Linked DNA regions of Homo sapiens. The protein of the gene in region 2 interacts with the protein of the main gene of each other region in a pairwise test. Each region holds a gene or a part of one and is shown on either strand. Other genes may lie near its edges. The genes, in order: NUDT3, ITFG1 and FAM118B.

Region 1 (3,967 bases), on a different chromosome or scaffold from region 2:
AGGAGAATGGCGTGAATCCGGGAGGCGGAGCTTGCAGTGAGCCGAGATGGTGCCACTGCACTCCACCATGGGCGACAGAGCAAGACTCTGTCTCAAAAAAAAAAAAAAATACAGAAAACTAGCCAAGCATTATGGCAGGTGCCTGTAATCCCAGCTACTCGGGAGGCTGAGGCAGGGAGAACAGCTTGAACCCGGGAGGTGGAGGTTGCAATGAGCCGAGATCACGCCACTGCACTCCAGCCTGGGCGAAAGAGCGAGACTCCGTCTCAAAATAAATAAATAAATAAAAATAAGTAAATAAATAAAATTTTAAAAATAAAAATGCAAGCTCCTAGAATCGCCTGAACCTGGGAGGCAGAGGTTGCAGTGAGCCAAGATGGGGCCACTGCACTCCAGCCTGGGCGACATAGCAAGAGTCGGTCTCAAAAAAAAAAAAGAAAAAAAGTAAGCTCCTAGAAGGCAAGTCCTATGCCTGGTCTGACTTGTGAGATGCCGTGAGGTAGCCTAAACAGACAAGTAAGCTTTCAACATTAATGTTGCTAATGTCAGTGCATAACAAAACATTTAACAGAAAATGGAAAATTAAGCCGTTGCTAGTTTGCTTATGATCTATAGTTTTCAATTTATCAAAAATACATTTTCTATTTCTAGTATGATTTATTATTATTATTTTTTTTTATATTTAGAGATGGGGATCTGTGTTGGCCAGGTTGGTCTCGAACTCTTGGCCTCACCACCTTGGTCTCCTGAAGTGCTAGGATTACAGGCGTGAGCCACCACGCCCGGCCTGGTGTGATTTTTTTAAAACAAACAGTCTTGCATCATTCGTACAACTAAATTATACTTATAATTGGGGTGCTCACAGATTTATGCATACTAGTGTAGTAAGACATGCTATTATGCTAATTAGTTTTCCCTTCAGTTAAGAGCCTGTGATCCCATCTGATTTCCCATAACATGATATGATAATGAGGAGAATAAAGGCTCTGGAGCAATAAGCACCACCAATAATTTTACTTTACTCAAATATGCATTCCAAAACAGTATATAATTTACAGCATGGCCCTGGTTAGCTATTACAATGCATCTGTTTTGGGGACTTTTACAATATATGGTAGGATACAAAGCATACGTTTCCAAATCTCCTTTCGTTCTGTTTTGCTGAAAGGGAGCACACATGGGATCCCTTAACAACACAATTCACTAACTAATTTTCTTCAGGCAGTAATTCAAATTCCCACTTCCTCCTAAATACCTCTGGACAGCAACTCCTGGCAATCCATCTGTCTCTTTCGCCACAGCTTCTTTTCATAACTAACGGGTCAAGTTCCTTTCCCCATTTCGACACTGCACTGTACTGCGGCCCTGCCACCATAGCCCACTGCTGAATCCAATATAACATATTGGATTTCACTGTCCTTCATTGTTTCCAGTTTAACTGCCATTTTACCACCATGCACACGAGAAATGCATTCCCACAGGCATCTTATGAATTTCCAAAGCAGCTACTCTTTTGTGGATTTACAAAACATGTGCTTCTCTGAATTCCCTTCATCACCACAGAAACGGCTTTGGGAAGCCGAGATTTTTTTTTAAAGTACCCTACCTATTATAAAAAGAAACTGATTCTAAAACATTATTTTCCTAGCTAATTTAATCCTAAGAGTCTTCCCACAAGGCAGTGGAGGAACGTCAGGGCAAAAATGTTAAATACCGCTTTTGGTCTTCCCAATTAACATGAAACATTTTCAGCACACAAAGATTATTATATCAAATGTCTTTTCTTCTCAGACTACACCATAAAGGCTACCCAGCGCACTGTAAAATAAACAGCTGGCTATGGCTTATGCACAACGCCCTAAATCTTCCGAAGACACCCCACCCCCACCCCTCAGCTTTGGGCTCACAGACATATAATCCCTCGGCAAACCCCAAACCTGCCAATGAAGTGCACTATTTCTCTGCCACAAAGGCCGGCCCGCGCCTCGTGCACGCCGGCCTCCGCACACATGTGCCTGGCTGACAACTGCGGAGCGGCCCTTCCAGGATCAAAGCCGTTGGCCTGGACCGAAAGCCGCACTCTTCCCAGCCCACTGCCTTCTCCCGCGGCCGCTCTCCCCGGTAACAGGCGGCGGAACCGAAGCGCTCCGGCCACAAGCCGGCTACCCCCTCCGCCCGGCGCGCCCTGTGCAGCCGCACTCAAACCCGCTTCCCCTCAGCCCCAACGTCCTTTCTCCTTCCCCCTTTTTTCGCCTCAGGAAATTCCATCGGAACTTCATTCCGCCCGAGCGGGGCGGCCCTGGCACACCCTCCTCCGGCGGCCGCGCCCCTCGCGCCTCCACCCGAAGGGGCCGGAGACCCGGCGACCCCGGCCCGCCCAGCCTGCCGCCTCACCTCCTCCTCGCTCTCGCTGCGGAAACACAGGCATGCGGCCCGCTTCTTGTAGCCGTCGCCGTCGTAGGTGCGGGTCTGGTTCGACTTGAGCTTCATCATCCTCCGGGCCCGGGTGGGGGTGCGGTGCGGGTCGCAGGAGTCGAGGGGTGGGGAGCCCGCTCTGGACGGCCGCGTGCGCGCGCGCCCCCGGCTCGGCCAAGGGAAGCAGGGAGGGGGAGCTTCTCCGCTACACGGCTCCGCCGCTGGCCCGCCGCGGCCGCCTCATTCCCCCAGGCCCAGGTCCCGCGCCGCCGCTGCCACCGTCACGGCTGCCGTCTCCGCTGCCGCCAGGGCCGCCGCCCCCTCTGCCGCCGCCACCCCCGACGACGACCGCGCCGCCATCTTGGGCGCGATGCGTCAGCGGCGTAAGGCTGCACCGGCCTGCGGGACGGCCGCGCGCTCGCAGCGCAGGCCGCGTTCGCGAATCGCGCCCTCCCAGTTCGCGCGGTGGAAACCAGCATCTGAAAGGAGAGGGACGCGCGACTCCAGGCGACCGCTACGCCGGCAGCGTAGGCGTAGAACTGGTGGGGTGCGCGGAGGAAGCCGGGGGAGATAAGAACAGCGGCGCAGGACGCCTAGCGGCCGGAGCGGAGACCGAGCGGTCCAGCCGCGCAAGTCTGCGGATGGGGAAGCGGGGACTTGGCCAAGGTCACGCCGCGTCTCCGCGGCCGAGGATGAACCAAGGTCACGCCACCCGCCCCTGGGCCCTGCCGGTCGGTCTCGAAGGGGTTGAGGGGGAAGGTTTGTTGGAAAAAGGAGGATGTAGTTAAAGGCAACGGAAGCTGCAGCCTGAGACATCTGGGATTTGGAACTGCAAGGAAACGGCGCATGGGAGGCGTGTGCACTTTGCGTTGATAGCCTGAACCTCAGGATGTCTTAGGGGCTGGTGCATGTCGCCCATTACAAAGAACAAATATTTATTCTGCAATCTTTTATTGATGCTAAAGGTAATTGCTTCCTCTTATGGTAAACAAGAGGGCCAGAAAGGAACACGCGCGCGTGCGTGCGTGTGTACACACATAATGTAAATCATAAAACATCATCGTTTCTGGCAATAAATGAGGAGTGTGTGTTGTGGATGTCAAACAGATTCTCCAGGAAAAGATATACAGACAGAAGCTCTCCAGAAAGGAAAACTGGTGTATGACCTGTGAATGTTCTCAGCAACCCAGAACAAACCAAGTACCATGCAGATGCCCTAAACGTACCAAAAATCCTGTGCAGTATCTGTCTGTGAGTTGTTTAATACCCTTTTTTGTTTTTTAAATTTTTTTATTTAATTTTTTAAAATTTTTTTATTTAACATTTTGTTGCCCGGGCTGGTCCGGAATTCCTGGCCTCGAAGCTATCCACCCTCGGCCTCCCAAAGCACTGGGATTACTGGTGTGAGCCACAGCAGCCGGCTAATTCCCCTTTTTGAATTTGCTTGTATTTAGCATAGTCAAAAAGATCTGGATTTGAAAGCAAATACACCTTGGTTGTAACCTCAATTACATTTTTTTTAATGCTCATACCACCCGATTACATCATATTT
Region 2 (3,725 bases):
AGTTCAGAATGAATGCAGAATAGTCTCAAGAAACAAGACAAATCTGAAATATGTCGAGAGAAAACGTGTTTATTATGTTCAAGCAATGGCTAGTATAGCCCTTCTATATAGTTCCTTTGTCAAGGACACCAAGACATTCGGATGGTGTTTCTAACAAATGGAGGCTCATAATTGCCAAAGCAGTAAGCATTATCACTGGGATGTTTTCAATTAAAAGATATTATTTATAAAATATTTAGTTTGGATTTTAACATAAATTCAAAATTTACAGTAAAAATTAAAAGAATCATTTTATTTCTGAAAGCTAGTAAATTAAGAATGGAATTTTTTTTAACGAAACTTGGCAATCAATATAGCATCCAAACATATATATCTAACTTTATATGTATATTTTTATTTTTTCCTTTTCATAGGTATTGATATATTTTTATTAACAAAATAATTCTAAAATTATTTATATGAATCTTGAAAGCTTAACGTCCTGCAGTCTTATTATCTGAGCGACCCAAGCAAAAATTAGGCCTTTAATTCATTTTATACTTAATTCTACTCAGATGAAATAGCAAGACAGCAAATTTCCAATTAGACTATAGATAATTACTTTCTTAATGCATCAGTGGTAGTTCTTTCTCCCTCTCACTCAGCAAGGTAAGAACCAAGTGGTGTATTTCTGGAAAGTCTCAGGAATTAAGGATTTAAATTACAGTAATGGGTAAGGTTTTGGCCTTAAGCTAGACACAGGAGTTAACCAAAAGTCTACAAAAGGAACAATTTAACCCTTGCCCACAGCTCTACCCTATTTCTAGAATGTTAGTCTGTCAAGAACATACATGCAGGGCAAAAGATAGTAGACTAGTCCCACTAGGCAATACATTTCCAATTATTTCTTTTGCACCTTACTTGAAAATGTGAGTAGACACCTGCCTTCTGAAGAAAACTTTGACTATTAAAGAGAGCTAAAACAAATAGCAATAAGGAACCTGAAGAAAACAGAACTAATGCAACAAAAGAAAACTTCAAAATTACACTTAAGAGAAAAAAGTCTGTCTATAAAAAAAAAAACAAACCAACAACAGTATGCTAAAAGACAACATCAGTAAGAAAACAAAAGAAAAACCTCGGAAATTAAAAATGTGACACCTGGCTGGGCGCGGTGGTTCACGCCTGTAATCCCAGCACTTTGGGAGGTGGAGGTGGAGGTGGGTGGATCACTTGAGGTCAGGAATTTGAGACCAGCCTGGCCAACATTGCAAAACCCTGTCACTATTAAAAATACAAAAAGTAGCCAGGCGTGGTGGCGTGCATCTCTAATCCCAGCTACTTGGGAGGTTGAGGCAGGAGAATCGCTTGAACCCAGGAGGTGGAGATTGCAGTGAGCCAAGATTGGACCATTGCACTCTATCTAGCCTGGGCAACAGAGCAAGACTCCATCCCCCACCAAAAAAAAAAAAAAAAAAAAAAGGACTTAGAATTTAAAAGAGAAAGTTGAGAAAACCTCCTGCAAAGGAAAATAAAACAAAACTAAATGATAAAAATAAGAAACAGATAAGATAAAGGAATAAAGGATGAACCCAGGCAGACTAATCAACTGATAGAAACTCCTAAAAGAGACAAAAAAATTTTTCAAAGAAATATTTAATAATGTAAGAGTATTTCAAAAAGCTCCCAAGGATAGAGGCCTCTAGCTTGAAAGGGCCCACATAATGCCTAGCATAATAAGTAAAGAATAATCATTCCTGTAATTGCAGCACTTTGGGAGGCGAAGGTGGGAGGACAGCTTGAGCCCAGGATTAGGTGCCTACAGTGAGCTATGACTGTGTGACTGCACTCCTTTTTCACCTGGGTGATAGAGAAAGACCCTGTCTTTATCAAAAAAGAAAAACAAATCTATACCAAGGCACATCATCATGAAATCAGAACAAAATAGAAAAAGAAGAGACTCCAATAGCTTCCAAAATTAAAACAATTTACATTTAAAAGATTAGGAGAAAGAAGAGGGTTGAATTTTAAAACTGCAACCCATGAAGCTAGAACACAATAAGCTAACCAAACTTTTAAGAGTGGGTAGATGCCGGGCGCGGTGGCTCATGCCTACAATCCTAGCACTTTGGGAGGCCAAGGCAGGTGGATTGCCTGAGCTCAGGAGTTTTGACACCAGCCCGGGCAACACGGTGAAACCCTGTCTCTACTAAAATACTACAAAATTCGCTGGGCGTGGCGTTGTGCACCTGTAGTCCCAGCTACTCAGGAGGCTGAGGCAGGAGAATTGCTAGAACCAGGGAGGTGGAGGTTCCAGTGAGCTGAGCTTGTGCCACTGCACTCCAGCCTGGGAAACAGAGTGAGACTCTGTCTCTAAAAAAAAAAAAAAAAAAAAGTGGGTAGAAAAACTTTTTGGATGTGACAGGACTTATCAGGCATCCTTTCTCAGGAATTTCTGGAAAGACACACCCCCGTGAAGTAAATGAGGAAATTTCTTTTTTTACATGGGGAAATTCCCCACATAGTAAGTCTACAAAAGGCCTGGAGAATGAATCCAGACTGGATAGGAATGTAGAGGATCCAATGGGAAAAACAAAAATGCAGGATAGGTATATGGCAGATATGATGGAATATCTGCAAAGAAATTAAGGGTATGTACATAGAAAACTATGCAATCTATTTTTTAAAAAGCAATCATTTATTCCAGTAGGGCAAGCTGCACAAAAAATGAAATACTGTCCCAGCACTTTGGGAGGCCGAGGCAGGTGGATCACCTGAGGTCGGGAGCTCGAGACCAGCCTGGCCAACATGGTGAAATCCCATCTCTACTAAAAATACAAAAAATTAGCTAGGCATGGTGGCAGGCACCTGTAATCCCAGCTACTTGGGAGACTGAGGTGGGAGAATAGCTTGAACCCGGGAGGCAAAGGTTGCAGTGAGCTGAGATGATGCCAAGGCACTCCAGCCTGGGCAACAGAGTGAGACTCTGTCTCAAGAAAAAAAAAAAAAGAAAAAGAAAAGAAATACTGTACATTACTTGGTTCTGAAGTACATAGACACCACATGGTTAAAAGGTAAACAATGATTACTAATTTAACAAAAAATTATGATTTAATTACACTGGGACAATGTAGATAAATTATGTTAGTTAAAAAACAAGAATTGAATATTTAAAAATGATAATTCAAGAAAATTAGTGTAAAATTTTATTTTAAAATATGGTAATAAACACTAGAAGAATCAGCTACAGGTTTTAAAAGTGGTTGCATCTGAGAGAGAAACAGGGGTGTGGGGGAGAATAAGGGTGAAGAATAGTTATTTTTACTTTGAAAAATATTTTAAATTATAACACAAACAAGAGTTTCTAAATTTTGAAAGTGCATTGCATTAATAAAAAAATTAATTGGGATATTTGTTTTAACTTATCAGAACACATGCCATTTACATCTTTTAAATTTCCTTAATTTCTAATAAAAAAAAAATCACCTCTATGCAGTTAGTTCACTTCTCATATACACTCAACTTCAGTTTCTTCCCCACTCCAAGCATGCTGACATTCACTACCCAAAAACACTTCTCAAGGGAAATAAGTTCCTGTTTATCCATTTATAACTTTCCCCTCAAAGTTCTAGTTCAAGGCCATTTTTCTTTTTAACATGAGTTTGAGTTTACTCAAAATACTGTAGAGTCTGAGAACTAATCAGCCCACACAGGGACTTTTTAAATACAGCTTCCTAAGTAGTCTT
Region 3 (3,725 bases), on a different chromosome or scaffold from region 2:
GACATTTTGTTTCTCCATTCATGAACTAGACATTTGAGTTGTTTCCACTATTTTGGCTATTATGAATAACGTTGCTATGAACATGAGTGTACAGTTGCTGCATGAATATGCTTTCCATTCGCTTAGGTATATACTTATGAGTGCAGTTGCTGGTTCATAGAATCACTGTTCAACTTTTTGAGGAACTGCCAATCTGTTTTCCAAAGCAACTGCATCACTTTACATTCCCACAAAGGTTCCAATTTCTCCACATCCTTAATAACACTTATTATTGTCTTCTTGATTCTAGTCATGCCAGCGGGTGTGAAATGGCACCTTGTTGTGGTTTTGATTTGTATTTTCCTAATGACTAATGACGCTGAACATCTTTTCGTATGCACTTATTGGCCGTTTGTGTATCTTCTTTGGAGAAATGTCTATTCAACTACATCGTTATTTTAAAATTGAATTATTAGCCTTTATTAAGTTACAGTAGTTCTTTATAGATTCTGGATATTATACGCCTATGAGATATGTGATTTGCTAACATTTTCTCATTCTGGAAGCTGTCTTTTCACTTTTTTTTTTCTTTTGGTAGAGACAGGGTCTCACTATGTTGTCCAGGCTGGTCTTGAACTCATGCCCTCAAGCAGTTCTCCTGCCTTGGCCTCCCAAAGTTCTGGGATTATAGGCATGAGCCACCATCCCCGGCTCACTTTCTTGACAGTGTCCTTTCAGCCTAACAGTTTTTAACTTTGGAGAAGTCCAGTTTATCTATATTTTTTTTTACTTTAGTTTTTTGCATTTTTGGTGTCATGTCTAAAAAACCACTGCCAGATCCAGTCATGAAATTTTAAATCTGTATTTTCTTCTAAGAGTTTTACAGTTTTAGGTATCATATTTAGGTCTTTGATCCATTTTTAATTTTTATAAAGTGTATGGAGATTCCATGAACTCTTTAAAACCCCATTAATTCCTTTTTTTTTTTTTTTTTTTGAGACGGAGTCTTCCTCTGTCGCCCAGGCTGGAGTGCAGTGGCGCGACCGCAACTCAGTGCAACCTCCACCTCCCGGGTTCAAGCCATTCTCCTGCCTCAGCCTCCTGAGCAGCTGGGATTACAGGTGCCCACCACGCCTGGCCCTAGAAGCCTGATTTTTAAGATTTTAAAACAGGCTGGGTGCAGTGGCTCATGCCTATAATCCCAGCACTTTGTGAGGCTGAGGTGGGCAGATCACTTGAGGTCAGAAGTTCGAGACCAGCTTGACCAACATGGCAAAACCCTGTCTCTACTAAAAATACAAAAATTAGCTGGGCATGGTGGCACATGCCTGTAATCCCACCTACTCAGGAGGCTGAGACAGGAGAATCGCTTGAACCCAGGAGGCGGAGGCTGCCATGAGGCGAGATCGAACCACTGAACTTCAGCCTGGGTGACAAGAAGAAGATTCCATCAAAAAATAAATAAATAAATAAATAAATTTTCAGACAAAGCAAGACAGGGAGTCCTTTTATCCAACTCAGTTTGGTAAAATAAGGTGCAATTCCTTCTAAATATTTTGACTTATTACCTCTAAAAAGAACACTAAAAACTGGTTTTGTTTCATGTATAAAATGATAAAATTATCTCCAATCTTTGTGGGATTCCATACAAGGCATGGATGCCACAGAACACAGCTTTTATAGTAGTGATGCAGGAAAAAAATAAATTCAAAACACAGTGGTAATTTGTACATATAAAGTCCTCAACATCATTTCTCTCTCATAGACACACAGTGAAATGGGGTTAAGACAACTGTCCTGAGTAGGGTCCATAAACAGACATTGCGCAGAAGAGTCAAATGTTATGGAAACCTACAAGCTGTAAATGAATATCCCTGTTACATTTGGCATGCTAGTTTTGACAGCCAAATCATGCTAGTTGTGATAGTTAAATTTTAGGAAATTCCAAATACTGTGGCACATACTAGGGTACTCACAGGAGAGAGTTTCTGGATAAGGTCATGGGCAACATGGACCAGGTTCTTGTCTTCATGGAGACATTTCTGAAACTTTTTGCTCTCCTCATCTTCTAAAAGATCAAAATCAATGGCAGCATCCAGTAAGGCCTGAATTAACCCCTTCCAGGATTTGAGGGCTGGAACTTGGGGCGCAACTGCAGCACTAATGCCTGTTCCAATCACTAGCACAAGTTCTCGAGGCTTCTTAGTTTTTAAGCTTGGAAGCAGCTTCCTATAAAAGCAAAACAAATGAGAGGATTGGAATATCCAATAGATATGAGGCACACAGAAAGACTGTCTGACTCAGGTTACAGTTTTTAGCTAACTTTTATAGTTGCAAAGAAGATGAACAGCAGTTTTTGACACCTTTCCAAAGCAGTTTAAAGAAAACAACCAGAATATTGTGTCAGTGCTTGCTGAAAAACAAGTCATAAACCTATTTCAGGAATCCCAAAACCAATCTTAAAATCAGTTTTCCCTTCCTAGTCCTCTCAACCTAAGAAATTCCACTAATATTAGGAAAAGATCCAAATAGACTATAGCTCAGCTGACTTCTGCCAACTAAATTATATTTTAAACCAGTATTAAATTTCAAAAGAAGACGTTTGATTTGTACTCTAGAAAAAGAGAAAAGAACCCCAGGACAAATTAAGTTCCTATTATTGAGAAATGTAAAACACTAGGGGAAAGGCAATACAAAATTTAATTCTGAATTTTGTAAACATTAACCTCAGGCAAAAAAAAAAAAGAAAAAAAAAGTGGCCAATAGAATTCTGAAAACACAGGGGCCCTACATACCTAAATAAAGACATTAACTAATCAAAGGACATGACAAAAAGTGAAAAACATTCCTTTCTTACCATGATAAGCAGAGACAGACTTCTCTGTTCTGAGGCCCATATGTGAGACAGCATGGGTGCTAATTTTTGTTTTTGTTCCCCTCTCTTTCATTCTGGAGACTATCCCTGCTTGAAATATGTTCCTTCACATTAATTTTTGCTGATGGCATGTTCCCCTCCCCTGAAAATGGCTTCTCCCCAACCTTTTTGTCTAAATAATAAAATGGAGAGGATCAGCATTTTGGCATAACTCAAGAAAGGAATAGCACTTTCAAGCCTTGGGAAACCTGGTTTTGGGGACACAGCCTCTAAAACTGCTTTCCCTAACCCGAGCTTCTGCATTCAGTCATTCAACAAATATGAAAAACCGAGGCCAGGAGCAGTGGCTCACGCCTGTAATCCCAGCACTTTGGGGGGCCAAGGTGGGCTGATTACTTGAGGTCAGGAGTTCAAGACCAGCCTGGCCAACATGGTGAAACTCTGTGTCTACTAAAAATACAAAAATTAGCTGGGTCTGGTGGCGCACACCTGTAGTCCCAGCTACTAGGGAGGCTGAGGCAGGAAAGGAAAACCTGTATGTACCAGACACTACGGGAGTCATGTATCCATGAACAAAATGGAGTCCCTGATCTTGAAAGATCAGTCTACTAGAAAAGACATTAATAATAGATGTTAGAAGCAAATGATGAAAAATGAGTTTCAGTTCAGAGCAATCAAGATAGTGAAGCATACACAAATCCACATAAACAAATATACACACACATAGAAAATTTCTAGGATTCACAAGATGTATAAATAGTGGTTAAATGGGGATAGCAGAGAATAAGGACTTTTTACTTTTCATTTTATACTGTTGTACTGTATTTTTTTATATAACATACAGATTTGAACTATAATTCTTCCTAATTAA

The links.
Region 1: the proteins of ITFG1 (region 2) and NUDT3 interact in a two-hybrid assay, tested with the Homo sapiens proteins (one large-scale study listed by BioGRID and IntAct).
Region 3: the proteins of ITFG1 (region 2) and FAM118B interact in a two-hybrid assay, tested with the Homo sapiens proteins (one large-scale study listed by BioGRID and IntAct).

What each region holds. Positions count from the first base shown.
Region 1 is NC_000006.12:34,389,870-34,393,836, forward strand, and holds the start of NUDT3 (diphosphoinositol polyphosphate phosphohydrolase 1), read right to left. Parts: upstream 2,801-3,967; 5' UTR 2,494-2,800; coding exon 2,395-2,493; intron 1-2,394. UniProt on the Homo sapiens protein: Cleaves a beta-phosphate from the diphosphate groups in PP-InsP5 (diphosphoinositol pentakisphosphate) and [PP]2-InsP4 (bisdiphosphoinositol tetrakisphosphate), suggesting that it may play a role in signal transduction.
Region 2 is NC_000016.10:47,454,339-47,458,063, forward strand, and holds part of ITFG1 (T-cell immunomodulatory protein isoform 1 precursor), read right to left. Parts: intron 1-3,725. UniProt on the Homo sapiens protein: Modulator of T-cell function. Has a protective effect in graft versus host disease model.
Region 3 is NC_000011.10:126,239,275-126,242,999, reverse strand, and holds part of FAM118B (protein FAM118B), read right to left. Parts: intron 2,209-3,725; coding exon 1,956-2,208; intron 1-1,955. UniProt on the Homo sapiens protein: May play a role in Cajal bodies formation.